Regions from separate parts of the Homo sapiens genome. Here all the other regions are linked to region 2. Evidence: fine-mapped expression QTL. A gene starts in region 2. Each other region holds a variant in brackets. All regions are shown on one strand. Distances are between the middles of the regions. Region 1 has its middle 69 kb from the start of TRC-GCA5-1. Region 2 holds the start of CTSH (cathepsin H). Region 3 has its middle 32 kb from the start of MORF4L1. Region 4 overlaps CTSH (cathepsin H). Region 5 has its middle 18 kb from the start of ADAMTS7. Region 6 overlaps RASGRF1 (Ras protein specific guanine nucleotide releasing factor 1).

Region 1 (5,314 bases), 870 kb after region 2:
GAGTCCCAGGTCCCATCTAACTCCCAAGGATTCCTGAGCCAGTAGCTCCTGCCTCCTAGTCCTTGGGCCCCTGTGACAGCTCCATGGAAAATATAACCTCCTTCTGATATGAGCCCTTGTTGTACATGCTGAGAACAACAGCACTGCCAGGCAGCAAGTGTCGCAGAGGGACTACCCTTGGCCACAGCATAATGGCTCATCATGGCGTTACAATTCCATCTGAGGCTGGGAGTTTCATCCAAGACCAGCAGCCAAACGTTTAAGGGTTTGTATCAAGACAAACATAATTATGAGACAGAAAGGGCCTATTAGTTCTACTATGTAATTTTAAATCTCAAACTATCAAAACACACACACACACACACACACACACACACACACTAAAAAACCCCTCTTCATCTTCTCATTTGAGAAGGCTGTAATTATTCCAGGGTCCCTAACAGCTCACTCAATGGCTGGTTAAGCACTGCTTCTTAGCTGACAAGACCCCATTCCATGTTGGTTCAGGTCAGATGCAGGTGGCTGGGCCAGATGACCGGAGGAAGCCCTTGGATTCCATAAGCTCGAGTGTGGGACGCTGGATAGAACATGACTACCTTGTTTGTTTTTAATTAGGAAATTGAAATTGCCACTAACAGGTTTCTGCACATGTGGGTCCAAGTGTGCACACACTGGCATTTGTGTGAAGGCATGAGTCTCCAGGGACATGTGTGTGGCCGTCCATGACCGATCATCCGAATGCTCTTCTCTAAGTGTAGATTATCTCAGGGCATGAGGACACCCTTCACAGCCTGGGCCTCCCTGCCAGCTCTGTCTCCACACTCTTATCCACTTGGTGCCACATATGCACAGCCTTATGGGTCCTGGTGTTGGAAAGGAAAGTGCCCTGGGCAGCAGGCCAGGCCGCCAGCTGATTCACCGGTCAGCACTAGGCAAATTGATTTACCTCTCTGATGTATCCCTATTTCCCTCTCTGCAAAACAAAGACAAGAATATTTAATCCATAGGGTTCATGGGAGGATTTGATGAGCAAATATGTGCAGAAGCATGTTGCCAGTGTGTTTATTGTGTAGTCATAATAATGGAACAGTAGAGTATGATGCAGTAACAGTGCTTGTCTTAGTTTGCATTCTTCCACAAGTAGACTCCGTGATAAGGATTCAAGGCCAAGTAGTTTGTTTGGGGTGGGGAGTCGGAAGAAGACAAAGAAGAGAAGTCAGCCAGTAAAGAGTGCCGTGTCAAACCAGCCACCGTTATGGGTGACAGGAGCATACCCCAGAAGAACACTGTGGACAGTGGTGTGGAATACACTCCTCAATGTTACCCCTGCCTGAGGGAAATGATGGAGTTACCGTCATCTGCCCTGGCCAGGATCTGGTGGGTGGTTAGTTTCTCAGCACTTGCAATATGCTGTACACAAGCGCCCAGAGCTGCAGACGCCAGTATTTGGAATGTGGCCAGTTCCTGCTGAATCCAAGACCTGAGGGCCAGGAGCACGGGCTTGGCAGCAGCTGCTTCAAGTTGGATCATTGACACTGCAGAGCCACGTTTCACAACCAAGGAACTAAACTCAGGGCAGACTTGGATTCCAAAACAAGACGTGCAAAAAGGGCAATTTCAGGAGGAAGATGAGCCCAAAAGGGAGATCTTTCAGGCCTCATGGCATTTGTGCCTCTCTTCACAAAAATAATTTTTTTCCTGCTCTATGTAAACCTTGTACTAAGTGCTGCAGATACAGTGCTGACCAAGACAGAATCTGCCCTGCCCTCCTGGAGTTCCAGTGGGGATGCCTGCCTTAAACCATCACGAAAGCAAATAAGCAATTCCAAATAATAATGAATGATAAGTACATGTGAGTGTAAGTTGAACTGTGGACGAAGGTGAAGGGATGTCAGGGAAGACATCTCTCAGTGACATTTGAGCTCAGACCTGAAGGATGAGTAGGGGTGGTGAGGTGAAGGGGAAGGAAACTCCGAGCAGATGACTTAGCATGTGCAAGGGCCTGGAGGCAAGAATGAGCTTGGCACTCTCCCTGCACTGGTGAAGGGAGCTGGAGCCTGGTGAGAGGGAGGGAGGGGAAATGAGGCTGGAGAAGTAGGGAGGCACCAAACCAGACAGTCTAGAGGCATGAGAAAGAGTGGACTTTATCCTAAGTGCTGAGGGGGCCAATGAAGCATTTAAAGCAAGGGAGTGACCTGATCAAACTCAAATTCAGGACAGTGCCTTTGTGGAAACAGGATCCCTGGAGCAGCTCTGATCATCAAATGCTCTCTGAGCCCAGCTTCATGTGGAGTGTTGGGGGTGACCACACTCTGGGAGATCTGATGGGCATAGTACATGGTAGACATGCTGAATTCTGTAAGAGAGGTCCAAAGAAAAAGGCTCAGAGGAGGTGAGGAGGGGGATCCAAAGAGCCCTGCGGGGGGAAATGGCATCTGAGCCAGGCCAAGAGAGTGGGTGATGCTGGACCTGAGTGTTGGTGTGGAGAGGGTATTCCAGGCAGAGGTGCCAGAGTGAGTAAAGGTGAAGCTGACCAGGCAGTTGTCCTCTCTGCTCCCCTAGGCGGTGGGGCCCGGGCAGGAGGTAGCCTGAAGGGGCACAGCTCCTCTACTCACTTGGCCACCATGTTCAGCTTCTTGGCTGCCAGCGCAGGTCCCAGTGATGGCTTAAGCACCTGGACTGGCTGCTCTGATCCCTGTGGGGGTAATATGGTCACTCAGGCTTGGAGATCCAAGATACCTGAGAGTCAGCAGGAAGCCACCAAGGGCATAGCTGGGCATTGGTTGGGGAGGCTGAGTGGTGGGGTCATTTACCTTCTAAGTCAAACTCACCCTGGCCCCAGTCAAACCCAATCCAACAAGCAAAAAAACAACAACAATTACTTTTCTGTTGGAGAATTTCAGCAAACCTCTGAGTGTGTGTGTGTGTGTGTGTGTGTGTGCAC[G/A]CGCGCATGTATGCACATGTGTTTCATTGTGACTATGCATCTGGAGGGGTTTGTGAATGTGCTCCCATGTCAACGTGCATGTAAATGACAACAGCTCACGTTCACTGAGCTTGCCACATGCTCTATGTTCTCACCTGAATCCTTCTATTTAATCTCCACCTTATTAAAAGAGAATATTGTCGTCCCCACTTACAGATGAGGAAACTGCATGTTAGATTAGTTTCCACAGTGGGATGTGAGCTAGACTCCTATGGGCAGAATGACTTTTTGCTCCTAGAATTCTAAATCATGCATCAACTCTTAGCAGGAAAGAGATTTTCACCTTTCCTCAAGGTCATGTGGCAGAGATAAGAACCCACTTCTTTCCTGTAAAGCCCTTCAAAACATTGGCTCTGAAATAAAAGTGTAACATTTTCTAATGCAGTCTATTATCAGACGACTGCCACAAACATTAGGAAGATGCACGCAGTCCACTCCAGAGAAAGAAAAGTACTCTGGTGCTGCACAGCATTAAATGGCATGTCTCCTGACTCCTCTGCTTTCTAATAAAGGAAGCGATGACTCTGATCTCTGAAGACACCTGTTCTAAACCCACCATGTGACTTACCTCTTTAAAAAACAAACAAATAACATTTAATTTGCTCGTAAAGAATATCGTTTTTAGGTTTCCAATGTATTTAAAAATTGTAGGTAAAAGGCATTCAAATCATCTTGGCTTTCCAATCTCTTAAATCATATCTGCTTTATGTCGGGCATTTGACAACCCAAACTGACTTATAAAGTGCTCATGTTAATTAGCATGGAGAAATTGTGTATCCGTGTGTGTGTGTGTGTGTGTGTGTGTGTGTGTGTGTCTGAGTGTTTGTATGTGTGTCTGTGTGTGTGTGTATGTGAAGTTGCTAGTATTCCCTTTTGCTGACTCCAAATAAAGCCCGGAAAGGCTTTGGAAGTCTTCCCTGCCCCTTACCCTTTTCCCTTCTTTCTGAGAATTCTTGAAGCCTTCAGAGCAGGGCCCGGCACACAGCAGGCACCAGGAAGTGTCAGCTAATGGTCTAATGACGGTGACGGTTGGCACCATCACCACCATGTCCTTTCCTCCTGTTCCTACTGGGAAACCTGCATCCCCTCAGCCCACAATAGGAAAGAGCCTCCCATGGCCCTGCACACCCTGTATTTTATCCTAGAAGCCAGCAGAGTCCCTTCTCACCATGGCCCCCTGGATCTCTCCGCTTTCACCACCTTGGCCTTCCCTGACTCCCTCAACTTTGCTTCTCCCTCAAACGATAGACCCTGCACCCTCTGTTCCCAGCCTGCACACCCTTCCTCCTCTCTTCTCCCAGTTAACTCCCGCTCGTCCTTCAGATGGCTGCATCGGCATCATCTCCCCAGGAAGCCTGCTTCCATCTCCCCGACTTAGTCCACTCCCCCTATAATGGACCTTCACCACACCATGTCCTGCTCCTTCAGAGTGTGTGTCACAGGGAAAGTTCACACTTGTCTGGTGATGACCTGCCCCTCTCTAGAGCATCACTCCTGTTAGACTGAAATTCCAACAAGGCAGAGCCATGGAGCCCCAGAACCAAGCACAGCTGATCTGGAACATAATCGGCACTCAGTAACATTGGTTGCATGATTTTACAGAAAGGGGTTTGAAGTAACAGTGCGAGAAGGAAGGGACTAAAAGAAGAGTAACAGTGATGGGAGAGAGAACAAGGCCAGATGCTCACACTGGCTCTCCTTCATCCACCCTCTAGGCCTCTCCACCCCTCAGCCTGCCTCCTTCCCCAGCCAGGAGACGCAAATCTGTGCTGGGAGCTTCAGAGGCCATCTGGCTGCAGCACGGTCACTGCTTTGAGCTCTAAGGATGCACCTGGTACATCTCCAGTGACAAAGTGATTCCAAATAATACCCAGGTCCTGTGTCCAACCCTCCTCTCTCCACTCCCTGCCCTGAAAGGGAGTCTCATCACATTCCAGCACCATCTGCTTGGGCACAGCGTGCCAGGCCCTGGCTGAGGGCCCCTGCTGGCAGCAACGGTTCCTGGGCCACCATGGAACCAGCACCCACAAGAGGCAGGCAGTGTCCAGACACATGATCTGGGTCAGGGACACAGTGCCAGCTGCTGAGTCTCATGGAGGACAAGGGGGGCGAGATGGAAGTGTCTGTGGGTGGCACAATGGTGGAATAGCCAGCTCTAGGTGAATCTGCCCTAAATTCAAAACTGTCACACAGCAACGAAGGATGGTATCCTGCTGGCAAAGGTGTGCCCTGATTCCAAAGGGTCAAATTAAGGAAGGAATCCAGGCATGGCAAGGTGGGGACTCTGGCTGAGCATCCTAAGGCCCAGCCTGGCTGGAGAAAAGTGGCCTT
Region 2 (5,199 bases):
TACCTCCAGTGTGAAGATCACTACCACACAGCATTTAGATCTCCGTTTTTGGGTCTCGAACCTGTTCCAGAGACCAATCTATGGCCGTTTTCCCTGGGGAAAATGCACATTTCCTCAACATGGCTCCCTTTAGGGTTTCAGGGGATTCCAGATCTTGATTAAGGGCCCTGCTGCAGCTGAGGGCTTTAGAGGAAGACAGACCTCAACTCAGGACAAGAGTTGGAGGCAGGGTTTGAGTTTAGGACAATTGACTACCAGTTTGCCTCTGGAGAGATTATTCTGGGGCCAGAATAATCTGCTGGTGAACCGTGCCTTACCCTAAAATAGATCCATTCCAATCTAGTCAGGACTTTAAAAGTGCCATAATACCTTGCCTGGATTTACAGCAGGTTTCAGGAAAGTACAGTATTCCCCTGTTTGTTTGTTTGTTTGTTTTAGATGGAGTCTTACTCTGTCACCCAGGCTGGAGTGATCGCCACCTCTCAGTTTCAAGCGATTCTCCTGCCCCAGCCTCCTGAGTACCTGGGATTACAGGCACCTGGCTACCACACCCAGCTAATTTTTGTATTTTTAGTAGAGACAGGGTTTCACCATGTTGGCCAGGCTGCTCTCGAACTCCTGACCTAAAGTGATCCGACTGCCTCGGTCTCCCAAATTGCTGAGATTACAGGTGTGAGCCACCGCAGCCGGTCCCTGACTCCTGTTTTAGTACAGCTCCTGGGCTACAAACGGTTTCTTACAATTTTAAATGGTTAGAAGAAACATATTTCGTAGCACCCAAAAATCCCTTGAAACTGAAATTTCAGTGGCCATAAAAATCATTTATTAGAACCCAGTTACACTGACTCACTTACATACAATCTATGGTTGCTATCACACTACCATGGCAGAGTTAGTAGTTGCTACAGAGACCACCATAAAGCCTAAGTTATTTACCGTCTGGTCTTTCACAGAAAAAGTTTGCCAAGCCCTGCTCTGGAATTCAGACAGCCTCTCAGCGCCAGCCTTCTCCAGGCAGCCCTCGCTTGCGGCAGCTAGGTTTTCCTTAGGCGGGAACTGACCTGGAGCTGGGCGCCCACTGAGGTTTGCAAGGCTGGGGAGCTTTTTAAATAAATAGGTGGGAAGGAATGAGGCAACCCTCTGGCCCAGATTCAGCCTCAGTGATCTCTGTCCCATCCCCTGAGCCTCTAGCTGGGGGAAAGCCCTGTCCCGTTCCTCCAGAGCTCAGGGCACCCCCCCTCCCTAGGTTCTTGGCTCCTTGGGTTGTTTCTTGGCTACTTTTCTCGGTGAAGGGGGCAGGTGGTCTTTAAGTTCAGAGCCTGTGGGCTGAGGCTGGGACCAGGGACAGTAGGAAAGGAGGGAGGCAGTAGGGAAGAGCAGGCTCCTTGCCTTCAGCCAGGGGAGGTGCCTGAGCCCGGGCAGTAGACAGGATGCAAGGGCAGCACGAAGCTGGACCAGTCGCAGCCAATCTGGCCAACAAGAGGAGTCCTGGGGCTCCACCTGACGCCATGGGCCCTGGGGTGCTGTTAAAAGCGCTGTTGGTCTGAGTGCTTTCCCTGGTGCCGTTGCACAGGGATTCACTGTTCCAAACAGCCCGTCCAACCTACTCTACAGATGGGACTCCCAAGACACTACGGGGATCCCCTGTGTGCCAAGTCCCGGGGGAAGCTGCTAGAGAAGGCTGGGACGTCCTTGCTCACCTCTGGCAGGGACAGATCAGAGTCCTCTGTGTGACACTCTGTGTCCCCAGTTGAGGAAGGCGGAAGGAGCTGCGGGCTCCTTTGGTATTCTAGGCTGGAGAGCCACCTGGCTAGGTGGGACCCTGGACACTCAGCCCATCTGCTCCTCTGGTCCTACAAGCCGCCCACCCTCCGAGAACCCCCGCCTATAATGCAGTTTACCCCTCCCCGTGCCAGCACGCAGAGTTCCTGGCCTCTCACCGGGGAAAGCTCTGCCCCGTTCCTCCGGAGCCCAGTGCGCCCCTGGCCAAGTTCTCCCAGCGTCCACTCTAGGGCCTGCTAGCACCCTCTCGGGCGGCGCGCCCTCTGCGTACCTAAGGAGTTCACGCACAGTTCGGCGGCACCGCAGACGGGGACTCCCAGGAGCCAGGCCCCGGCGCAGAGCAGCGGCAGCGTGGCCCACATCGCAGCGCTGGCGGCTTGGCTCTTGCGCTCAGGGTCCGCGGAGGTGGCGGCCCAGAGCGTCAACTGGGAGCGCGGGGGGGGAGCGGCACGAGCGTGGAGGAGCGGCGGGAGCGCGAAGGGGCGGAGCGAGCGCGGGGCGGAGCGAGCGCGGGGCGGGGTGGGCGGTACTCCCCCGAGGCCGGGCTCGCGGGAGGGGGCGGCGCCGACTAACTCGCCAGCTCTAGTTCACCTGTCGGCCGGCCGCGTCGCTCCCTTATCTCCTCTGGGAGGAAGGGCTTATCTGGGTATCAGGCCTGGCTGAGTCCTGGATCTGCCTGGACTGGCTGGCACCGCGCGGGGAGGTCTCAGCCTGGCCTCTCCCTCTCCCAGCCTGTCGCCATCCCCACGTCCCCCATCTCCCTGCGTGTCCCCACCTCGCACCCCCCCATCTCCCTGCCTATCCCCAACTCGCACCCCTCATGTCCCTTCCTGTCCCCACCTCACACCATGTCCCTGCCTGTCTTCACCTTGCACCCTCCATCTCCCTGCCTGTCCCCACCTCGCTCCCCCTATGTCCCTGCCTGTCTCCACCTCACACCCCCATCTCCCTGAATGTGCCCACCTCCCACCCCCTATGTCCCTGCCTGTCCCCACCTCCCACCCCCATGTCCCTGCCTGTCCCCACCTCGCACCCCCATGTCCCTGCTTATCCCCACCTCGCACCCCCCCATCTCCCTGCCTGTCCCCAACTCACACCCCCCATCTCCCTGCCTGTCCCCACCTCAGACTCCCCATGTCCCTGCCTGTCTCCACCTCACACCCTTATGTCCCTGCCTGTCCCCACCTCGCACGCCCCACGTCCCTGCCTGTCCCCACCTCGCACTCCCCATGTCCCTGCTTGTCCCCACCTCGCACCCCCCATCTCCCTGCCTGTCCCCACCTCACACCCCCCATGTCCCTGCCTGTCTCCACCTCACAGCCTTATGTCCCTTCCTGTCCCCACCTCGCACCCCCCATCTCCCTGCCTATCCCCACCATACCCCTATGTCCCTGCCTGTCCCCACCTCACACCCCCATGTCTCTGCCTGTCCCCACCTCACACCCCCATATCCCTGCCAGTCCCCACCTCACATCCCCCCATCTTCCTGCATTTCCCCACCTCACACCCCTATGTCCCTGCCTGTCCCCGCCTTGCACCTCCCATCTTCCTGCCTGTCCCCACCTCACACCCCCTCATGTCCCTGCGTGTCTCCACCTTGCACCCCCATCTCCCTGCCTGTCCCCACCTCATACCCCCCATGTCCCTGTGTGTCTCCACCTCAGACTTTCCCCCACACTCCCCACGTCTCCCTGCCCTGGTTAACCACATTTCCCTGGCTTCCCTTTTGCTTGGAGTGGACTTACAACTGAAGAAGCTAGACGACCTCCTTGTGAATTGTTTTGCCCCCTCAACAGACATTTTAGTCTTTCTGCTGAGGAAGCTACATTAAGAGCTGTAGGGCCATTCTCTGTAGTTTGCAAAGCTAAAGAAGATGGTATGTAAGGGTCTGGGTGTGAGACAGACAGAAGAACGTGCGTTCCAGGCTGAGGAGGCCGGTGCTGTCACTGCTTTGGGTGAGGAGAGGGTGATTCAGACCAGCCTGTGCCGTAGCCTCAAATGCCCAGTGATGCCCTGTTCTTCACTTACATCATCACCTTGCAAAGTGGCATGTTGTTGACCCCCCATTTTACAGATGAGGAAACTGAGGCCACAAGAGTAGATGGTAACTTTCCCAGTCTGTGCGCAGAGAGTGTCTGAACCCAGCCTTGACCTACTGCAGTGCTCTCTGCTCTGGGCTTGCTCTTTCTCTGTCTCTTCATTTTTAAATTTTTATTTATTTATTTTGAGACAGGGCCTGGCTCTCTTGCCACCCAGGTTGGAGTTCAGTGGCATCATCACAGTTCACTGCAGCCTTGGCCTCCCAGGCTCAGGAGATCCTCCCACATCAGCCTTTTGAGTAGCTGGGACCACAGGCTCGTACCATCACGCCCAGCTAGTTTTTTTGTATTTTTAGTAGAGATGGGGTCTCAAACTCCTGGGCTCAAGTGATCCTCCTGCCTCAGCCTCCCAGAGTGCTAGGATTAGAGATGTGAGCCTCTGTGCCCTTCCCTCTCTTTTTAAAAATGCATCTTTCCAACCTGTGAGTAGAGCCAGATCTGAGCTCTCTCGTGGCCTCCCTCCGACTGGTGTTTCATCCCCTGATGTTCTAGCCCAGACTCTGTGTCTCAGGCACCTGGGGAAGCAGATTCCTGGACTTCTTTCCTGGGATATGACCTACTGGGTCTGGGTAGGGCTCAGAAATCTGCATTTAAAGAGCCTCCCCCACAGTCTCTCTCCTCTCCTGTGGCCAGTGTGGCATGTGGACATGGAATCTCCATGGAACCAGGGTGAGCTCCAGCAGGCACCTTTTTTCAGATAAAGCAGATCTTCCTTAGGTTGTGACTCCATCTCTGTCTGGATGCCCCTCTCTGGGTGTGACCAGTCTCTCTGTGCTTTGAGGCATATGTCTCAGAAAAGACCCTGCTCGGTTACTATTTGGAACAGAAGTCGCTGGCCTTGGGATAAAGGTGTCCTTCTAGGCAGATGTCCTGCCCTTCATGTGTACCTGGAATGCTTCACCCCTCTGCCCATCCCAGCCACTTGGAGGATGTCAGAATTGAAAGCTCTGCATGCTAGACCTCAGGCCCCAGAGCTGCCTCCTGCGCTAGGTCCCTGGTGACCCTCCTTTGTGGATCGTTCCAGCAGGCCAGGGCCCCTGGGTGCTGAGATGTGGAGGGCACTGACCTGGTTAATTGGAGACCAATGTTTGGTTCTAGCCCTACTACAGATTCACTGTGTGACCTAAGCAAATGGTTCCCCCCCGCCTCCCCCCCACCAGCCTCAGTTTCCTCATCTGTAAAATGGAGCAAGTATCCCTGCTTTCCAGGGTAGTTAGATACGGTCATGCAGTTTAAATATAATTATAGGTAAAATACCTGGCCCTGAGCATGGCACCAGAATAGAGACTCCCCCCATGCATGGGCTTTTCTGATGCTC
Region 3 (5,314 bases), 41 kb before region 2:
ACACCACCTTGTTTCCCAGCCACACACATATCCATTAAATTCCTGAGTCTTATGAATTACCAAATACTTTTGTCTGTCCCATCTGCCTCTTAAATGTCTACAGTGGAGAATGTATTTTAATAGTTTTCTGGATTAAAATAATCATGCTCCTTTCTCCTTTAAAACAAATGGTTTCCTGTATGATAGTGTTTTGAATCATGGGAGTAAAGGGCAAGTTAGGTTAAGGTACAAACTCTGAAGCTAAACACAGCTTCTGTAGCGTCCAGCCCCATGGGGCTTAGGGGGTGTTCTCCCCGTGTGCAGAGACGAGAGATTGTAAGAAATAAAGACACAAGACAAAGAGATAAAGAGAAAACAGCTGGGCCTGGGGGGGGCCACTGGGTGTGCTGATATTTATTGCATGCAAGACAAGGGGGCAGGGTAAGGAAGGTGAGCCCTCCAAGTGATTGATAAGGTCAAGCAAGTCATGTGATCACAAGACAGGGGCTCTTCCCTTTTAGGTAGCCGAAGCAGAGAGGGAAGGCAGCATACGTCAGCATTTTCTTCTATGCACTTATCAGAAAGATCAAAGACTTTAAGACTTTCACTATTTCTTCTACCGCTATCTTCTAAGAACTTCCAAGAGGAACTAGGGGTACGGGAGGAACATGAAAGTGGACAAGGAGCGTGACCATTGAAGCACAGCACCACAGGGAGGGGTTTAGGCCTCTGGATGACTGTGGGCAGGCCTGGATAATATCCAGCCTCCCACAGGAAGCTGGTGGAGCAGAGTGTTCCCTGACTCCTCCAAGGAAAGGGAGACTCCCTTTCGTGGTCTGCTAAGTAATGGGTGCCTTCCCAGGCACTGGCGTTACCGCTTGACCAAGGAGCCCTCAACTGGCCATTATGCAGGCGTGACAGAAGGCTTACCTCTTGCCGCCTTGGTTACTTCTCACAATGTCCCTTCAGCACCTGACCCTATACCTGCTGGTTATTCCTTGATTATATTAGTAGTACAATAAAGAGTAATGTTAAAAGCCAATGATTAATAATGTTTATACTAATGACTGATAATGTCCATGATAATCTCTGTATCGAATTTGTATTATAACTATTCTTATTCTAGCTATTTTCTTCATTATACTGAAACCGTTTGTGCCTTCAGTCTCTTGCCTCGGCACCTGAGTAATCCTTTGCCCACAAGCTTCCCCAGTCTTCACATCACCATGCTGTGTTTCAGTCAGTTCTCCTTTGCTTTTTGCTTCTAAGCTTGCTTTCACATGCTGTTGAATGGAAGAAACAAGTTGGAGAACAATAATACAGTATATGAAAAAAATATCGTATTTCCTAGGGTATATACATATGTGGGTTGGTTTTTTTTTGTTTTTTTGTTTTTTTTTTTGAGACGGAGTCTCTCTCTGTCGCCCAGGCTGTGCAGTGGCACGATCTCGGCTCGCTGCAACCTCCACCTCCTGGGTTGAAGGGCTTCTTCTGCCTCAGCCTTCTGAGTAGCTGGGACTACAGGTGCCCACCACTATTCCTGGCTAATTTTTGTATTTTTCGTAGAGATGGGGTTTTACCATAATGGCTAGGCTGGTCTCCAGCTTCTGACCTTGTAATCTGCCTGCCTCGGCTTCCCAAAGTGCTGGGATTACAGGTGTGAGCCACTACACCCAGCCAAATACAGTTTCCTCTTAAATGCATAAATGAGCAAAAAAAAAGGAAGAGACTAAAACTGAAAACCCCAAAATTTTGCCTGCCTTCAATCTAGGTAATACAGAGATACTGCATACAAAGTATCTTTAAAATATATAAAAAGAATTGAAAATGTGAGAAAAGGGAACAAAATAGACTTAACCAAGACCAGCATAAAGTAATGGCATACTTTGTAAATAATTCAGAGCAATCTTCCACTGAAGACAAGAAAATAAGCAGAGATATAAAACATCTGCTTGAAGGCATTGGAGACCTAAGAAAATGGCGAAGACTTAATGGGCCAGCATTTGGTAGAGAATTGAGTTTCAGGGCTGTAAGTCCATATTCAGTGTGGCTTTTATTTTGCAGTTGTTTGCAAAGGTCAGAGAGGCTTTTGGTCTGGTTCTTTTGATAGTCTCACTTGGACTAAAGGACATGATTTGGAGTCTGATATCTGCCAAGAAATTAGGACCCCAAAAGGATATACCCCAGGAATAAAGATGAACCAAATTTAATTACTTCTTCAAACAGTTTTACAAATATATGCAGCAAATAGCTAGTTTTGCGTGAGACAAAACTACATGAAGTCAGGTGTGGTGGTGTGTGCCTGTAGTCCCAACTACTTGGGAGGCTGATGTGGGGGGATTGCTTGAGCCCAGGAAGGCTGCAGTGAGCTGATTGCCTCACTGCACTCCAGCCCGAGCAACAGAGAGACCTTGTCTCAAAAAAGAAATAGAAGTACTTGGAGAAAACATCAAGAAACTCATCTGAGAAACAGAGACAGGATATAGGCTGTTGTAGATCCAGTTTACTTTAAGAAGTAAGTGCTGGTGGGGTATAATGTTTCACGCCTATGATCTTAGCACTTTGGGAGGCTGAGGCAGGAAGATCACTTGAGCCTAGGAGTTGACGATCAGCCTGGGCAACATGGCAAAACCTCATTTACAAAAAAACACAAAAATGAACTGGGCACGGTGGCTCACACCTGTGGCCCCAGCTACTCTGGAGGCTGAGGTGGGAGAATCACTTGAGCTCAGGAGGTGGAGGTTGCAGTGAGCTGAAATTGCACCACTGCACTCCAACCTGGGCAACAGAGTAAGACCCTGTCTCAAAAACAACAAAGTGCTCTACATCATTCCTTAAGTAAGGAAAGTCAGATACTGACATTTTAAGACATTTAAAAAAGTATGCTTACTATATTTAGAGAGATGAGATAACTTAAACAGCAAACTTTAAAAAGCATATCAGAATTCCACATGCAAAACACAGTAGCTAAAATAGGAACTCAATAGGTTTAACAGTGGGAAGATAGGTCAGGAAACAAATACGCATATTGAGGGACAGAGACATTAAGGATAGACAATGCATTGGTAAACCTAACTGAAAATATAATTATTGCAGGAGCGAATGGGGCAATAATCGAGATTGATGACTTTGCAGAACTGTTAATAAAGTGTTAACTTTAAGCATGACAAAAATAACCAGTTAAAGATATTAAGACTAGGCACTGCAGCTTAATTAGTGTAATCCTAGCACTTTGGGAGGCAGAGGTGGGAGGATTGCTTGAGCCCAGGAGTTCAAGGCTGCACTTCAGCCTGCATAACAGAGCCAAGACGTCTT[TAAAAAA/T]AAAAAAAAAAAAAAAAAGCGTATATAATTAAAACCTAAAGGCAATTTTAAAGGCATCCCAATTAAAAAGACTTGACAATGCAAATAATGGAAGCCAGGAGGCAATGGAGTATGTTTAGAAAGCTGAAACAAAACTGCAATTTAAAATTCTAAACTCAGTAAAAACCCTTCAAGAAAACATTTTCAGACAAAACTCGAAAAATGTGTTAGAAAATTTACCAGCAAACCCAAACTGGAGAAAAAGTTATTTTGTTTTTTGAGATGGAGTCTCGCTGTCACCCAAGCTGGAATGCAGTGGTGCAGTCTTGGCTCACTGCAACCTCCACTTGCCGGGTTTAAGCAATGCTCCTGCCTCAGCCTCCCAAGTAGCGGAGACTACAGGCACGTGCCATCATGCCCAGCTAATTTTTTTGTATTTTTAGTTAACCAGGATGGTCTCGATCTCCTGACCTCGTGATCCGCCCGCCTCGGCTTCCCAGAGTGCTGGGATTACAGTTTGTTTCTTAAATGTTCATTGCAAGGTGGACTGTGAAAGCATATCACAATTTAAAAAAATTGTTACATTAGAATTGTTAGATTAGAATCATTTAGTATTTGCATGGATATTTTGCTCATACATGGTTTTGTAAGATTTTGCATTGGTCATTTGGAAAATATTTACTGAGTCACGCAAATTTTTCAAATATTGACCTGCCTTACACAATATGGAAGACTGATGCAAGGATTTCTGAGGAGGAGTTATGTAGATGGGCCTCTTTAGATCCAGAGTGAAGATATTAGTGTCTTGTATGAAAGTTCACCAAAGGGCATTCATGGTAGACAAGGCTTCCATGTGTCATCTCGTGTAAGAAGAATTGTAGGTGTTTTAACCACGTCCCCAGCTAGGGTCTCATTGCCAGACGTGAGTGAGCCTTCTGATGATTATAGCTCCCAGTCTTTGAGCCCTCCCAGCTGATGCAGAATGGGACAGAGATGAGCTGTCCCCTCCAGCTCCTACCCTAATGGCAGACTTGTGAGTCAGATAAATAATGTTCCAAGCTACTAAGTTTTGGAGTGGTTTGCTATGTAGTAGTGGGTGACCTGAACACTTGGCTACTTGCCATTGCGATTGCCAAATCTGCCATTCCCTGATATGGTGTATTTCCTGAGGTTACAAGCCAGCCACTTGGTGACAGGTTAATTACGTTGGACCCCTTCCATCATCAAAGGGATGCCAGTTTTTCCTCACTGGAATAGACATGCATTCTGGATATCTGGATTTATTAATATAATATTAATACTTTCCCTGTCTAATGCTTTTGCTAACACAATCATCCGTGAACCCAGAAACCTTTATTCATGGTATTCCGTGTAACATTGCTTCTGGCATACACTATCAGCCTGAGAAAATGGAATGAGCTATTGAGGAGTCAGTTGTGGTGCCAGTTGGGAGACCTGAAAAGTTGAGGTTCTTAATTAAAGGATGCAGTATATGCTGTGAATATGGCCCATAGATGGTGATCTCTCATGGAATGCACAGGTTTGGAAATTAATAGGAGTGGCTTCTCACTATCACAAACCAATTACAGAATGTGTGCTTCCCATTCCTGTAACTTTGCGTTCAGTTGGTATAGAGGTTTTGGTTCCCAAGGAGAAATTCTGTCATCCAGGCAACATGATGGGTCAGTTGGATTGGAAGTTAGATAGCTATTTTGGTCATCTCATACCACCGAGCCAACAGGCAAAGAAGAGAAGTACTGTACTGGCTGAGATGATCGGCTCTGATTACCAAGAAGAAATTTGGGTGCTGCTATATACAATGAGGAGAGAAAGGACCATGTCTGGAACCCAGAGGATTCTCTGGGATATGTCTTAGTACTTCTGTGTTCCTAGGTAAAGTTTAATAGAAAAGTACATAAGTTAAAAAACACAAGACCACTGAGGTTTCACATTCTTTTAGGAATGAGTTTTGAAGTCACCCTATCTGGTGACAAAACAAGACCAAAACCAAAAACAGCTGAGGTGCTGGCTGAGA
Region 4 (5,314 bases), 24 kb before region 2:
TTTCACCATGCTGGTCTCGAACTCCTGACCTCAGGTGATCTGCCCACCTTGGCCTCCCAAAGTGCTGGGATTATAAGCCGTGAGCCACCACACCAGGCCTGCAGGCCTTTTTATAATAAAAGACTCTCATCATTGTCTGGGTTTGAGACATTCGGGGCTCTTATGGAAAGGAGAACTCTGCTTCAAAGTCTCAGGTCTGTGTTCCAGCCCAAGCCCACAATCCCTGCGGAGCACCTAAATCCCTCAGGGGAGGCTAATTTTGAAAACAGTTATTTGATTTTTGTGGTAATTTGAATTTCTTTGGAACCTCACCCAGGACCCTCCCTTTAAATGAGTATTTAATTGGAATGTGGTTAATAATGTTCTATATTGGATCATTAATTGTGACATTTGTATCAAACTACTACATTCATCGCAGAGAGATCTGGGTGTGGGTGTGCAAGAATTCTCCTCTGTCTCCACAGTCATTCTATATCTAAACCCGTTAGAAAAGAAAATGTTCACTTTAAAAACAATATAGAGCTGGGTGAGGATTTAGGTTACATTGTTTTTCCAACCTACTGTTCAATTTCTAGCACTATTTTTTTTTTGAGACGGAGTCTCGCTCTGTCACCCAGGTTGGAGTGCAGGGGTGCGATCTCCACTCACTGCAACCTCTGCCTGCCGGGTTCAAGTGATTCTCCTGCCTCAGCCTCTCGAGTAGCTGGGATTATAGGCATCCGCCACCATGCCCGGCTAATTTTTGTATTTCTAGTAGAGACAGGATTTCACTATGTTGGCCAGGCTGGTCTTGAACTCCTGACCTCGTGATCCATCTGCCTTAGCCTCCCAAAGTGCTGGGATTACAGGCGTGAGCCACCGCACCCAGCTTCTAGCACCTTTAATTGAATGGTGAAAATGGACTCGTCTGTGACGGATGTATCGAATTCTTACTTCCTAGACCTGAGTGAGTAATCTATTCTTAATTGGCACACTGTTTTAAGGGTTAACATTTTGTAAATTTTAATATGTGAAAAAAATCCACCCTCATTGCTCATTTATAAAACTACCTTGGCCTTTTTTCCCCCAGATAAAAAGGATAACAGAATTTTATTGGGATTTTAGTTGGAAATATACCATCTGTACTTTTATTTCTGGCAATAATCAACTTATTTATGCTAATCTTTCCATTCAAGAATATGGTGTGCCTCGGCCGGGCATGGTGGCTCATGCATGTCATCCCAGCACCTTGGGAGGTCGAGGCAGGTGGATCATGAGGTCAGGAGTTTGAGACCAATCTGCCAACATAGTGAAACCTCGTCTCTACTAAAAATACAAAACACTAGCCAGGTGTGGTGGTGGGCACCTGTAATCCCAGCTACTCGGGTGGCTGAGGCAGGAGAATCACGTGAACCCGGGAGGCGGAGGTTGCAGTGAGCCAAGATCATGCCATTGCACTCCAGCCCGGGCAACAGTGTGAGACTCTGTCTCAACAACAACAACAAAAGAATATGGTGGCTCTCCATTTATCTAAGTCTTCCTTTATAGTGTTATTAATTTAGTAATTTTCTTCATATAAGACTTTTTGGTGGTTATTCCTAGCTGCTGGTTTTGTTGCAATAGTAAAGTTGCAATAGTAACAAAAAATAGTGTATTTTTTCTGAGTTTTTGATTTTTTTTTCTGGTATCCAGCCACTTTCAGAACTCTTTCATTAGTTCTAAGTTTTGTTGATTCTCCTGAATGTTTTTAGCCACATTATCATGCTGTCTGCAAATATTAATTGGGTTTATTTATCACAGCAGCCAGATCTTCCAGATAGATGTAAGCAAGAATGGTACCCTTAGACTTATTTGCCATGTATCTTCAATGGGAATCCTTTTATACCACTGACTTCAATGGGAATCCTTTTATACAACTGACCATTGATTTGAGAATCTTTGTCAAATTCAGAAATTATGCTTTCAGGCTGGGTGCGGTTGCTCACACTCCTGTAATCCCAGCACTTTGGGATCACTTGAGGTCAGGAGTTCGAGACCAGCTTGACCAACATGGTGAGACCCCATCTCTACTAAAAATACATAAATTAGCCAGGAGTGGTGGTGCATGCCTGTAATCCCAGCTATTCAGGAGGCTGAGGCAGGAGAATCGCTTGAACTGGGGAGGTGGAGGTTGCAGTGAGCTGAGATCACACCACTGCACTCCAGCCTGGGTGACAGAGTGAGACTACATCTAAAAAAAAAAAAAAAAAAAGAAAGAAAAAGAAATTATGCTTTCATTTCATGTTAGTTTTTTTTTAAATCTAGAATAGAATTCCATCCAATGAAGTCTATTATTATTATTATTTTTTTTTTGAGGCTGGAGTGCAGTGGCATGATCTCAGCTCACTGCAACCTCCATCTCCCAGGCTTAAGCGATTCTCTTGCCTCACCCTCCCGAGTAGCTGGGACTACAGGTGTGCACTACCACTCCTGGCTAAATTTTTTTTTTTGTATTTTTATTAGAGACGGGGTTTCACCATGTTGGCCAGGCTAGTCTCAAACTCCTGACCTCAGGTGATCCACCTGCCTCGGCCTCCCAAAGTGCTGGGATTATAGGCGTGAGCCACCATGCCTAGCAAGGTGATTGTTTTTTGTCTTATACAGTTGTGGTCTTATGTTACTAGAATTTTCTAATAAATTAAACTATATTTGCATTATCTAAATAAGCCTTATCATGAACATATATATTTTTCAAATATTCTCAAGCCTTTAGCTTTTCAGGAAGCCCAAATAAGATGACAGCTTTTATCATTAAGAAAGTCTGTGAGCCATAGGACAAAGAGCTGGTGGACTCCAGCTTGTTCTACAGACATCCCAGAGCCCGGAGGCTTCAGGAAGCAGCAGCAACTTCATGGC[C/T]GCCCTCTAAACAGAGATCAAGATTTCTCAAAAGGCAAGATAAGGGAAGGGATGGTGTGGAAACGACAGGAGCATCTGGGCACGTTTGAAATAAATAAGGGGTTGGTGAGGAAGGGGTGGGCAGTCTCATGTGGAGGTGGGGGGCAGAGTCTGAGTAGGAGTAGGCAGCTGAGACTGGGGAGGCCACACAGAGAAGTACAGGCTTCTGGGCTGACATTGTGGGTTTGAATCCTGCCTCTGCCGCAGCTTGGCCCGTTTTTCTCCTTCCTCCCCACCTCTCCACTCAGGTTTGGGACAAATAGTCAAGATCTCAAATTAAGCCTGCTCTTCATCCTGGATACCCCATCTGGTGGATAATACCGCCAGCACCCCCACCATCCTCCCAGCCAGAGCCTGGACACCCCCTGATGCCTCCCTCCTGGGAGACTGAGTGGCGAGGACAGACCTGGTTTGAGTCATGGCCCAGGACCAGCATGCTCCATCTGGGGAGGTGCTCACTCAATGTTTATTGAACAGCGAATACAGAAAAGACAGTCCCTGGAGCTCTATATGTGGAAAGTAGCCCTTCTGGACAGAAAGAATATTCGTGGTCCATGTGGTTTGAGTCTGTTAAGAAGGACACTAAGGCACATGGCTGGTGATCTTTGCGTCATAGACACGGGTGAGCTCATGGTGGAACTCCTCCTTGTCTGTAGGTTTCCAGGCTGGGCACAGAGGTGAGGGCAGAATGTTGGGGGTCCCAGTGGATCTCCCCACAACTTCCTCCAGGGCAGGATTTCCACCCAGGCCCAGGCTGCCCGTTCCTCTCCTTCTCCGCCAGTCTGCGCTGCGGCTGCCACGGCTCACACCAGAGGGATGGGGTAGGAGGCGCAGGCAGCCAGGCCACACATGTTCTTTCCGCGCTCGATGAGGAAGTACCTGGGCAGAAAGAGGAGCTGAGGCCCGGCCGGCGGTCTCCCCACCACAGGCCTTTCTAGAATGTTTTGCTGCTCACCAAGAGCTGACTTCAGGGGTGAGACCCTCTAAATTTATTCATAAAACAGTAGCATTCGGCTTATTTGATCACCGGCAAATCACGGACCTGACTTTGTGAAGAATTCATTCTTCCCTCTCCTTAGCTGCCAAATGAATGATCCATATCCCACTTCTCCCGAAAATTTACCGAGGGCCCCCTCTTAGCCCTGGCCGGGCCCTCACACAGCTATTTTATCACCAGGAGCCCGAGGGAACAGGAAAGCTCTCCTTTTCAGACAAGGACATGGAATCTGGGAGGACAGGACAAAGGCACAGCAGCATATACACCCAGGCCGCCCCATGCCAGCCTTTTCTCCCGGAAGGAGGGGCTGTCAGTGATCAGGGGTACATTTGTTGCTTTGATTTCTCAAAGACGGACCCTCCCAGACACTGATTTCGTGCCAGCAGAGTTCCAAGTTCTGAGCTGTTTTCCTAGCAGTCCTTCTGAGCCAGCTGGCCTCCTGCTCTCCCTGCAGCGTCCTAAAGACCTGGGGCCCTGTGAGGGCTGCAAATGGGGGCTTGGAAATGTGGAGGCTACATTCTCATGCTCCCTTTCCCCCTGGCCTGGCCTAGGGCTTGGCTGACCAGCTCGTCTGTGGAAGCCGTAACTCTGAGGTGGAAGTGATGCCCCCAGGGCCTCCAGGCCTGAGCAACATCCCCCTCCCAGAAGTGGGACCTGGGAGCTGCTTACCCGTTCATTCCCCACTGGGGACCCCAAGAGTTTTTCACGATCCAGTAAGGGATCCCATTTTTTTCTCCATACCCAACAGCCAGTACTGCATGGTTTACTTTATCTGGAGTTTTATGGCAGGAAGTACTGGAAAACAAAATTCAAAAAGAGGTGATCATATGGGAAGGATAAAAGCAATGACAGTCCCATCCAACAACGCCTCTTTGAGCGCTTTAGAGCAATGTTCCCCACAGCGGACCAGGGAGGCATGTAAGGTGGTGATGTAATCACATTTAGTCTCCGTGAGAGAACTCCTTTCAGTTCTTTTTTTCTTTTGAGACGGAGTCTCACTCTGTTGCCCAGGCTGGAGTGCAATGGTGCAATCTCTGCTCACTGCAACCTTCACCTCCAGGGTTCAAACGATTCTCCTGCCTCAGACTCCCGAGTAGCCTGATTACAGGCGTGCACCACCACACCCAGCTAATTTTTGTATTTTGGGTAGAGACAGGGTTTCATCATGTTGGCTAGGTTGGTCTCGAGCTCCTGACCTCAGGTGATCCACCCACCTCGGCCTCCCAAAGTGCTGGGATTGCAGGTGTGAGCCACCGCACCCGGCCCTTTCAGTTCTTTTGGTTCTTCTGCTTCTGTCAGGAGAATCTCCATATGGTGCTGGCCCGTGTCTCACCCCTGACACTTTCTACTCCCTCTTTCCTGGCAAGGAGAGAGCCACCTTCCTGCTGCACCTTCTGTAGGCAA
Region 5 (5,314 bases), 120 kb before region 2:
GTGCAGATTTTAGGAGTGTTGTCAGCAGAGCACCTCAGGGAAAACTGGACAGGCTCTTCAGAGGGAGGCTTCTGTTCACCTGCTGGGTGGGCCTTTGGGCAAGTCCCCTCTCTGAGCCTGCTTCCTCCTGTGTAAGTCAGGATCACATTCCTTGTCTCACAGAGCAGTCATGGGGACCAGATGAGATGATCCTTATAAAATGCCTGGCACTGGGCCTGGCACATAGTAAATGCCCAGCCAATGCAAAGAAGCTGCAGTGAGCTATGATCAGGCCATTGCACTCCAGCCTGGGTGACACAGTAAGACCTTGTCTCTAAAAACACTCTTAGAATTAGAAGGTGTCTCATTTTACAAATGAGAAAACAGACCAGAATGGGACAGTTACTTCATTTTACACAGAGTGTTAGGGCACAGAGACTAGAACCCAGGCCACTTGACATTCAGTGACAACTTCCATTCAAGGAAGAAAAAGTCCCAGGCATCAGGCCCTGCTGGAAGGAAACCCTGGGAAAGCATGATCTAATTTTGCAAACTTTCGATCAGATTCCCAGTTCATCCAGGCTCTGGCCTAGTCTATGTCTTGGTAAGTAGGTTAATCTCCCCTTTCCTAACCGCTGGGGAGAGAATGTCACTTAACTGCAGATTCCCTGTCTCCTGGGCAAGCAAGGCAGAGGCCTGGGAGTGATGGGGAGCCTCTGGTGGTGGTGATTGATTGAGGGCAGGAGACATGAGGGAGATCTGCCCTCTAGGGACTACCTCCCAGCTCCTGGTGGCATGTTGTGCCTGTGTTCTTTTTTTTTTTTTTTTTGAGACAGAGTCTCACTCTGTCACCCAGGCTGGAGTGCAATGGCGTGATCTTTGCTCACTGCAAGCTCTGCCTCCCAGGTTCACGCCATTCTCCTGCCTCAGCCTCCCAAGTAGCTGGGACTACAGGCGCCCGCCACCATGCCCGGCTAATTTTTTGTATTTTTTAGTAGAGACGGGGTTTCACCATGTTAGCCAGGATGGTCTCGATCTCCTGACCTCATGATCCACCCGCCTCGGCCTCCCAAAGTGCTAGGATTACAGGCGTGAGCCCGGCCTGTGCCTGTGTTCTTGATGGAGGTAGGAAAGAAGGAAAAGGTAAGTGCACAGTATGCCAGGGTTGACATACAGTGGGAGCTCCAGACTAAAGTTGGCAGAGAAGGTCCAGAGAGGGCCTTCAGCAAAACGGGAGGTCACTCTAGCCTCTCAATAATAATCACAAGAAGAAGAGTTCCGCACCAGGCACAGAGCTGAAGGCTTTCTCTCTGGAGGCTGGTTAATTCTCCTATGACCCTGATGAGGGGTTATCAGCATCTTCTTTTACAGATAGGCAAGATTAATTAGTTAACCCCCGGCCGGAGGTGATGGCTCACACCTGTAATCCCAGCACTTTGGGAGGCCGAGATGGGTGGATCACCTGAGGTCAGGAGTTCAAGACTAGCCTGGACAACATGGCAAAACCCTGACTCTACTAAAAAATACAAAAATTAGCCAGGCGTGGTAGCAGGCACGTGTAATCCCAGCTACTTGGGAGGCTGAGGCATGAGAATTGCTTGAACCTGGGAGGCAGAGATTGCAATGAGCTGAGATCCCGCCACTGCACTCCATCCTGGGTGACAGAGCAAGACTCCATCTCAAAAATAAAATAAAATATGAAAAATAAAAACTGGTTATCCCCAAGACACATACCTGGTAAGTGGTATAAAGGGGACCATGGTCTCCTCCTCCCCTGGGAACCCTCCCATCCCTAAACTCATACCCCTTCCTTGAGTCTCCTGCCCTGCCCTTCAGTCTCTGTCTTGTTACCCTGCTTTGTTTCATTGTCACTCTTTCCCCCATGAGTTCATCTCATTTATTTGTTTGTCTTTATCCCCCAGTAGAAGACACACTGCAGGCTGCATCCTGCGTGCTTAGCAAGGTGGTTGGCACATAATGGGCATGCAATGAATGCTTTTGGAAGTAAACAGAGTGGTGGCAGAGGGAAGTCTTTTCTTAGGAAGTGATATTTGGGCTGAGGCCAGAGTGCTGAGAAGGAGCAGCCACATGGTAATCTGGGTGAAGGGCATTCTTGGCAGAGGGAACAGCAAAGACAAAGGCCTGAGGCAGGCCAGAGTGGTGTATTTGGGGAAGGGCCTGTGTGTCTGGAGTGAAGTGAGCAAGGCTCGGAGTGGTAGGTGACAAGGTCTAGGAGGTGGGCAGAGAGACCACAGACAGAGGACTTGTCAACCCTGGCATACAGTGGGATTGCCTAGGCACTTTTAAAAATACCAGGGCTGGCTGGGCACGGTGCCTCACACCTGTAAACCCAGCACTTTGGGAGGCCGAAGTGGGTGGATCAGCTGAGGTCAGGAATTCAAGACCAGTCTGGCCAACAAAATGAAACCCCATCTCTCCTAAAAACAAAAATTAGCTGGGTGTGGTGACGCACGCCTGTAGTCCCAGCTACTCGGGAGGCTGAGGCAGAAGGATCACTTGAACCCAGGAGGCGGAGGTTGCAGTGAGCCGAGATCATGCCACTGCACTCCAGCCTGGGCAACAGAGCAAGACTCTGTGT[C/CAAA]AAAAAAAAAAAAAAAAGCTGTAGTGGGTGCCTCTGTCATGAGGCCTTGTAGTCCAAAGCAGGAAATCTGGATTTTATTCTAACTGTAGGAGGAAGTCACTGGAATTGGAAGCCAAGGCAGGATTGGGATCAGCTCAAAAATCACCTCCTCCAAGAAGTCTTTCAGGATTCCCCAGGCTTTAGGCCCCTCCTCTGTGCATGCTGAGCATGAGTGCTGGCCCAGTCTTAGTCTCCCAACACTGGACTTTTTTTTTTTCTTGAGATGGAGTCTTGCTCTGTCACCCAGGCTGGAGTGGAAAGGCCTGCCATCTCGGCTCACTGCAACCTCCGCCTCCCAGATTCAAGCGATTCTCCTGCCTCAGCCTCCCAAGTAGCTGGGATTACAGGCGCACACCACCATGCCCAGCTAATTTTTGTATTTTAGGTAGAGACGGGGTTTTACCATGTTGGCCAGGCTGGTCTCAAATTCCTGACCTCAGGTGATCTGCAGCCTTGGCCCCCCAAAGTGCTAGGATTACAGGCATCAGCCTTTGGGCCTGGCCCAGCACTGGTCTTTTAAACCCTGTTTGCATGTCTCTTCCTCTGACTGCTCCTAGATTAGTTGCTTCTCCGTCTTCAGCCCAGTTGTAAGCAGTGCGGCTGACCTTGGGAAGAAGATCAGGGATACTTGCAGAGCAGACCACAGTGAAGGTGGGAATGAAGGGTACCCATGGCTAAAGCAGGGGAGGAGAAATGCCTTATCAGGAGCAGGGGTTCAAGGAAGCAGGGCTGGCGGGCAGGGGGCTGCCAGGCCCCACTGGTCGGACTTGGGCACCCCTCCTTGGTCTTCAGTTGGCTATCTCGGGGCCCACAGGGGAGGTGGAGGGGCGCACTGCCTCCACGGGAAGAATTTATATGACCTCCCTTCAGCGCCCCCCGAGTATCAGAGTCCCTCTGGGAGGCACTGGGAAGCTGGAGCTGCGTCCTCGGGCGGGAACCGGCAGCTGCGGACCCACACCTTGGGTGAATTGCAGACGCTGTTTCCTCCGGTTCGGGCTTCCGGCCCCCGCGTCTCAGTTCACCCGCAAAGGGTCCCCAGTTCAACGCTAATTCAAGGGTGAAGAAGCAGCTACTGGAAATAACAGCTCGGAGGCCTTTGGGGTGGGCCACGGGTGCAGCTGGCCAATCGCAGGCTAGCAGGTGGTTCCCCAGTTTTTTAAAGGTGCTGCCGCGAGGCACTGCAGACCCCCTAGTTCTCTCCCAGCGGCTGCCGGTGTTGGAGTGGATCTGAGCGGATCCCTGCATCGCCATCAACGGCGATGGCATCCGCCAGAGGCAGGGTCGAATCGCCCGAGCTGTCTGGGCCGTGCTTCCCTTCAGCTGGCCGGAAGAGGCGTCGGGGGCTGCTCCCTAACAGCTCCCTGGGCAACGGATCAGAGAACACTAGCCCGGCCCGGAGTCCCCGCAGCCTGCATGGCCTGGACGGGGTGGCGGGGGCCGTCCGGGCGCCGGCGCTGCGGGCTCTGATTGCGGGCGCCTACTGGGCCCTGTGCGCTGTAGGCCTGGTGGGCAACGGCTGGTGCTAGTCCGGGTGAGGTCCCAGCAGTGGCGCCGCCACTGGCTGCTCAATTGCTTCCTCCTCAATCTGGCAGCCACTGACCTGCAGTTTGTGCTAACGCTGCCCTTTTGGGCCGTGGACACGGCGCGCGACTTTAGCTGGCCCTTCGGGGGTGCCATCTGCAAGGTGATGCTGACGCTCACCGTGCTCAACATGTATGCCAGCATCTTCCTCCTCAGTGCCATGAGCGTGGCACGCTATTGCATTGTGACTGGCGCGCTGCCTCCGAGCCATCGGGGCGCATCACGGGCCAGCTGTGTGTGCTGCCTGCTCTGGGCTATGGCCGTCCTGGCTACGGCGCCCACCGCCCTGTTCGCCACGGCAGCTAGGGTGGGGGGAAAGCACTCGTGCCTGCTGCGCTTCCCCGCCGGCGGCCCCAAATGGCAGGTGCTCTACCACCTGCAGAAGATCGCAGTAGCCTTCGTGCTGCCGCTGGCCACGCTGGGCACCTGTTCGCTGCTGCTGCGCTTCCTGCGACTGTGGTGCGCACGCTGGCCGTCGAGGGTCAGGCGCCGACTGCGTTCCCGAGTCACCTGTGCGCTGGCCTGCGTGCTACTGGCCTTCGTGCTCTGCTGGCTGCCCAGCCAAGCGTTCACACTCTGAGGGGTGCTGATCAAACTGAACGCCATGCCCTTGGACCGCGCTTACTTCCTGGCTCAGGCCTACCTCTTCCCGGTCTCCATCTGCCTGACGCACTGCAACAACAGCCTCAATCCGCTGCTTTACTGCCTGCTGCGGCGCCACTTCCGACAGGGCCTTCGAGAGCTGTGTAGCTGAGCCCAGCGGCCGGTGCCCCTCCGAGCAAGCTCCCACGGCAGCGCCCCAGCGGCTGCACTCTTCCAATGAGGGCCGCTTGTCGCTGCGTCAGTATCAAGGGCATGGGGTAAAGTGGCTCATATCTGGTTGGGGCGATGACGTCATGAAGCAGGGTCCGACGTCAAGGCCGGTATTCTGGGGTCTCTCAGAAGGTCAGGGTTGGTCCATTGGTGGAGATTACTTAAGATTGAGAGTACACCATTAATCTGTGTATCCTAAGGTGAGTCCCATCTCCTCTGGCTTCAGTTTCCCCATTTGAAAAGTTTGGGGATGAGATGAATCCTGGGGACTCTGCCAGGTCTAGCACTTTGATCCTCCTAGCA
Region 6 (5,314 bases), 44 kb after region 2:
TACTTAAGAATGGAACTACTACTTAAGAGAATCAGGAAGGATAATAACACAAAGTAGTACATGTATTATACCTCTTAATTAAATTGAAGTAGTAGTTAAAATTTTTTTCCATCAAGAGAACATGGAACTTAAAAAGAATTTTATATAAAAGTTATACTAATTTTTGAAAGAAATAGATCAGTCAAATCTTCCAGAGAAGAAGGATAAAAGGAATATCTTCCAGTTTATTCTATGAAGCCAGTATTACCTTGATACTGAGACCAGAGATGGATAATATAAGAAAGGAAAATTACACACCCATTTGTTTAATATACCATGACCACATTGGGTTTGTCCCTGGAATGCAAGGATGATTGAATATTAGAAAAAAAGTATAATTGTCATTTACTATATCAACAGAGCAAGGGAGAAAAACCATATGACCATCTCTATGGATGCAGAAAGAAATATTTGATAAAATTCTGTATTTATTCATGGTTAAATCCATTAGCACCCAAGGAATAAAAGATAATTAAAAAAAAAAACCTGGTAAAGGAGCAAACATCATTCCACATGGGGAAATATTAGAAATATCTCCTTTAAAACCAAGAAGGTGGCCGAGTGCAGTGGCTCACACCTGTAATTCCAGTACTTTGGGAGCTGAGGCGGGTGGATCACCTGAGGTCCGGAGTTTGAGACCAGCCTGGGCAACATGGTGAAACCCTGTCTCTACTAAAAATACAAAAATTACCTGGGTGCAGTGGCATGCACCTGTAATCCCAGCTACTCAGGAGGCTGAGGCATGATAATCACTTGAACCCAGGAGGTGGAGGTTGCAGTGAGCTGAGATTGTACTACTGCACTCCAGCCTGGGCGACAGAGGGAGACTGTGTCTTAAACAAAACAAAACAAAACAAAAAAAACCAAAAAACCCCACAAAAAACCCAAGAAGGAGACACATGATCACCATGTCCATTCCATGCTGTTGTGGAGAGAGACGGGACTAGGGTGAGGCAGTTGAGGTGTGGGGTACAAGTGCAGAAGGGCGAGTAGCTCCTTCGATTTTGCTCTCTGGGAACCTTGCTTGCCTTACACCAGTACCCCAGCTTGGCCATGGTCCTGAAGATCCTGGCCAGTACCAGTTAAGAGGACAAAGAAATTAAAGGCAAAAGGACCAGAAAACAGCAAATAGAACTGTGCCAGGGAGAGACGAGGAAAATCATTGTTGTGCCAGCACACATCCTGTGTATCAGAACCAAATGGTGGATTTGAACAGAGATGGCCAAATGCCAGGTCGTTACAAGGGCAGCTTCTGAAGTAGACCGTGTGCGTTCAAAATTGTACTCTGCTGTGTAATGTTGGGGATGAAATTTCCCCTCCTCAAGCCTCAGTTTCTTCATCCACAAAGTGGGCATGGCAGGATTAAATGAGATGATGCTTTTGAAGCACAGCGTCTAGCATGGGGTGAACACTCAGTGAATGCTCACTTCATATTCTTGTCTTTCACTTGCTCGACTCCTGGGCACACAGTGGGACAGGGAAGGGAGGGGACAGTGATTTGTTGCCTGGTGCTGTAAGGTGTGGTTGGATCAGGCCTCTGTCAGGTTATGTTTCCCGAGGCTTGGTCTCTGTCCCTCTTTCTCTCCTGAGAGGCACACGAGTCTCCTTTCTGCTGCTGTGCTCACTGCAGGAACCACTGGGTGCCCAGGCCTAGGAGGCCCCAAAGGGCTCCTCCCCTGAGCTGCAATCTCTGGGTCTTTCTTGTTTCTTCTAGGCTGCTGAGGATCCTCCCAGGATATGGTGTGCTGGCGGCTGGGGTTGGTAGGATGTGGCCCTGGCCAAGGTGGTCAGGGCAAGTGGAATCATGTGCTCCCACCACCGGCCCTCAAAGGCTCTTTCCTCGTGTTGATGATTAAACTCAGAAGAATGAGGATGCTGAGTGCAACTGTTCTCAGGGCTGTCACGAGGCTGGGAGTGGACCCGGCTCTGTGGTTCAGGGGTTGGAACTTGCACACATGTGGGGAAGTTGCTGGGAGGGAGTTTTTTTTTTTTTTTTTTCCTCACACAGCTGATTTGCACTGT[G/A]TAGCAATGGAAGCCATGAGCTACCACACACCAGTTAGGAGACCTCAGCATTTGCCCTTCCAGAGTCTTGGTTTCTTTGTACCTAAAAATGTGAGGACAGCCCCCATCTTTTAGTTGATGTGAGCTTTCAATGAGATTACTATGCACAAAAAGCTCAGTGCTAGGCACAAGGTAGGCACCCGGTTAGGGGGCAGTGGATATTCTTATTAAAGAACATTGCAAATGCTCCCTGTGGATGTGAATTGTGCCTCAGAAGGCTCTGGGACCTGTCTGCCCCCCAGTTCTCTGCTGCTCCCATGTTTCTCTGAGGAGGGATTCTGGGAGCTGGGGGTGTGTGATGCACCCATCTGAACTTAGTGTGCCAATCAGAGTCAGTCCAGGCCCTTTGAGCTGCTTATGCCAGGCCAGTTTGCAGGTCCAGTGCTTGGTCCCATCTCAACAGTTCTTCCCCAGGAAAGCTGGGGCTGGGAGGTCTAGAGAAGGGGGCTGGAGGAGCTGGATATTGGGCCATCCTGATCCTAGCCAGGGAGATTCAGGAGCCTTAGTCTCGCCCAGCACTGTGGCCTCCTAACATTAAAGAGAATGTTTAATTAAACATTCGCTCAGCACTGTGGCCTTCTAACATTAAAGAGAATGTTTAATTAAACATTCGCTCAGCACTGTGGCCTCCTAACATTAAAGAGAATTAAACATTCTCTTTAGTGTTATCCCAAAAGACCATCTTACCACAAGAAAGGCAAGAAGAGGGGCAGCGAGTGGGACATCATTGCCAGAGTAGCTGAAACAGCCAAAACCTTAGGAGATTCCGAGGGTTCTGGATAATGTATGAATTAGAGGGAAGCTGTCTGCCATTGTCCAGCCAAATATTGCTTGTTGCTAATACTGAGATGAGGTTTAAAAATAGGAAGCATAGCAAGGTCTTCATTCCTTTCCTTCTAATCCTTCATTCCCTTCTGTTCTCTTTGCCACAGACTCCGCAAAAACCCTGCTCCGAGGAGTAACCCCCACTTAGGAATCACAAGTTCTGGGTGAGGGCTCACAGCGAGCCAATGCTGGGCTGAATGTCTTTAGATGACCACGCAGTTAATCCTCCTATGACTGTTCCATGGTCAGCCCCACTTAATAGGAGAAGAGACTGAGACTGAGGTGAGGCAACCAGCCCGAGGCCACATGGCAAGGGGTGGCAGGGCTGGAGAGGACCCAGGAGTCTGGTTCCAGCCAGGTGTATAGCCCGTTCTCTACCCAGCCTCTTGAGCGTCTTGCCAAAGAAAAACCCCAGTGAGAGAGGCGCTCCCATCCATACTCACGTCATTGAAGTGCTTAGTGGTTTTCATGATATAAGGGGTCCTTTCATTCTTTTCCAGTTTCATCCATCCTTGTCCGAAGAACTCCCTGTAGGAAGTAAGGGGAGACCCAGGTGGAGGGGGTGAGGTTTGCCTTGCTGATTTCATTGCTCCATGCTTTTTATTTTATTTTTTGGCTTTTTGAGGCTGTCATTTCTGGGGGAACAACCTTCTGCAGAGCCCTGGAAGGAAGGAACCTTGGGCTCAAGTCCAGCTCTGCCTTGTCGCAGCTGTGTGGCCCCAGACAAACCCTTTATAGCTCAGGGCTTCAGTTTCCTTATCTGTAAAATGGGAATCAAGACAATCCTTTCCTCACAGGTTTACTGGGAGGCTGAAATAAGGTGTGGGAAGGCACACATGGTGGAAATAATTTGTTATGAATCTTGTTTTCTGACAGGGAGAATTCACATTTTAGTCACTGCAGCAGCTGGTCTGTAGGATGAGGGAATAGAAGGCCCTAAAAGGGGGCAGATAAAAGGCTTAAAAAGCCTGCAAGCCAAGCCACAGGCTCCTGACATCATAAAGTGACAGGGAGAGGGGACCTCGGCAGAGTCCTGTGGGCAGAAGGGGCCGGGGAGGTGATTTGTGTTTGAAAACACATCCCGCTTCTCCTCCTAGAGGGACATATCAGGAATATCATCTGTTTCTATGTCCAGGAGATGTGACAGGTTTCCAAAGTGCCGACCCTCTCTATTTACACGAGGCAGCACCCATGCTGGGGAGGGCTGCGAGAGTGCCAGGTGGGGCTGAGGCCAAAAGCCCCACAATGATTCAAATCCGGTGAGCCCAATTCTGGGAAACCATTCTGGGACCATTGTTAGGAATTCAGACATATTTGTTGCAAGGATGTTTACCGCAGGGATAAATATAAAAGTGAAGGCTGAAAACACTCTCGTGGCTTAGTAACACACTGTTAGAGAATGCTGTGTACTTATTAAAAATAGTGTTTACAAATGCCCTTTTGGCATAGCATCAGATGAAGGAAGAGGGATAGAAAATTACATAAGTAGAATAATTGCAGTGAACACCAGGGATGACTGAGGCCAGAACAGGTAACAGCAGGCCTTGGGGCTTCTTCAAAGTCCACGCCTGTCCCCTAAATCAGCTACTGGAGGTCACTGGACCTACACACGTGCCCACGCTCTTGCCTGTGTGCACAGTTTCTCACAGGTACATGTGCACACACACATGAACACATGCTCTTTTCTAGATACTCTCTTTCTAGGAGCTCTGAGTTAGAGATGATTCCAGAAAAGTGTGTGTGTGCAGCTGACAGGTAAGGAGAGAATTTGGTGGGCAGGAACGGGAACAGGCTTCTCTCCCTCATTCTGCTGACCCAGGCACTATTGTTTCAAGCTGTGGAGGGTCCGTGCAGCTCTGGAAATTCACTGCGTGTGCTTCCAGGGTGCTGTCCAAGACAGTGCCTGAGGAAGCGGGGGGAGGCGGGTGGTGCCTGCAACACTTACTCATAAGGAATCTTCTTGAAGACGAGGTGATCTAGCAGGGTCAGCTGCTCCGCGATCTCCAGGGCTGAGTGGTTTTCAAAGGGCTCAGCCTTCACGCCTTCAGCCTGGTTTTGAGTTGGGGGAGCAACATTTTGAGTTAGGCCCATGACGGACACCTCCTGGATTCCCAGCTGCCTCTGTGGGGGTATCTCGCCCTCGAATTGGGTGGGCGGGTGGACGGGGTATGACGCTGCCTCGAATCTGATGAGAGGGTGGATGGAGTATGATGAGGGGAGGTGGAGGGAAGGGGACGGAGGGAGATGGGCCCCGCCCTGTTGTGCCGGTGTGTGCAGCCCAGTGCTCGGACTGCCCTCACCCACCCTGCCAGGGAGCTCCCAGCACGTGCATGAGACAATGGAGGCTTCCAGAGGTGAGCCACTGGCCCAAGTTGCTAAGCTGGAAGTG

The links.
Region 1: its variant is fine-mapped to the expression of CTSH in uterus (GTEx, PIP 0.99).
Region 3: its variant is fine-mapped to the expression of CTSH in skeletal muscle (FUSION, PIP 0.95).
Region 4: its variant is fine-mapped to the expression of CTSH in testis (GTEx, PIP above 0.99).
Region 5: its variant is fine-mapped to the expression of CTSH in monocytes (Fairfax 2014, PIP 0.95).
Region 6: its variant is fine-mapped to the expression of CTSH in whole blood (TOPMed, PIP above 0.99).

What each region holds. Positions count from the first base shown.
Region 1 is chr15:79,810,756-79,816,069 of GRCh38, forward strand. No RefSeq gene overlaps it. Among named protein-coding and RNA genes, the nearest start is that of TRC-GCA5-1, 69 kb to the left of the region's middle. The variant G/A (reference allele first, on the strand shown) is at 2,945.
Region 2 is chr15:78,942,838-78,948,036 of GRCh38, forward strand. It overlaps CTSH (cathepsin H), which reads right to left and starts at 2,209. Exons shown (of 12, transcript NM_004390.5): 1 at 2,054-2,209. The coding sequence starts at 2,144. RefSeq lists enhancers at 412-461, 892-941, 1,402-1,940, 1,941-2,479 and silencers at 1,330-1,624, 2,062-2,411.
Region 3 is chr15:78,902,059-78,907,372 of GRCh38, forward strand. No RefSeq gene overlaps it. Among named protein-coding and RNA genes, the nearest start is that of MORF4L1, 32 kb to the left of the region's middle. The variant TAAAAAA/T (reference allele first, on the strand shown) is at 3,295.
Region 4 is chr15:78,918,414-78,923,727 of GRCh38, forward strand. CTSH (cathepsin H) reads right to left here. Exons shown (of 12, transcript NM_004390.5): 11 at 4,580-4,705; 12 at 2,645-3,792. The coding sequence ends at 3,717. Among named protein-coding and RNA genes, the nearest start is that of CTSH, 24 kb to the right of the region's middle. The variant C/T (reference allele first, on the strand shown) is at 2,875.
Region 5 is chr15:78,827,088-78,832,401 of GRCh38, forward strand. It overlaps the pseudogene LOC390614. Among named protein-coding and RNA genes, the nearest start is that of ADAMTS7, 18 kb to the left of the region's middle. RefSeq lists a silencer at 3,905-4,124 and an enhancer at 4,312-4,859. The variant C/CAAA (reference allele first, on the strand shown) is at 2,579.
Region 6 is chr15:78,986,821-78,992,134 of GRCh38, forward strand. RASGRF1 (Ras protein specific guanine nucleotide releasing factor 1) reads right to left here. Exons shown (of 27, transcript NM_001145648.3): 21 at 4,871-4,974; 22 at 3,369-3,453. Among named protein-coding and RNA genes, the nearest start is that of CTSH, 44 kb to the left of the region's middle. The variant G/A (reference allele first, on the strand shown) is at 2,062.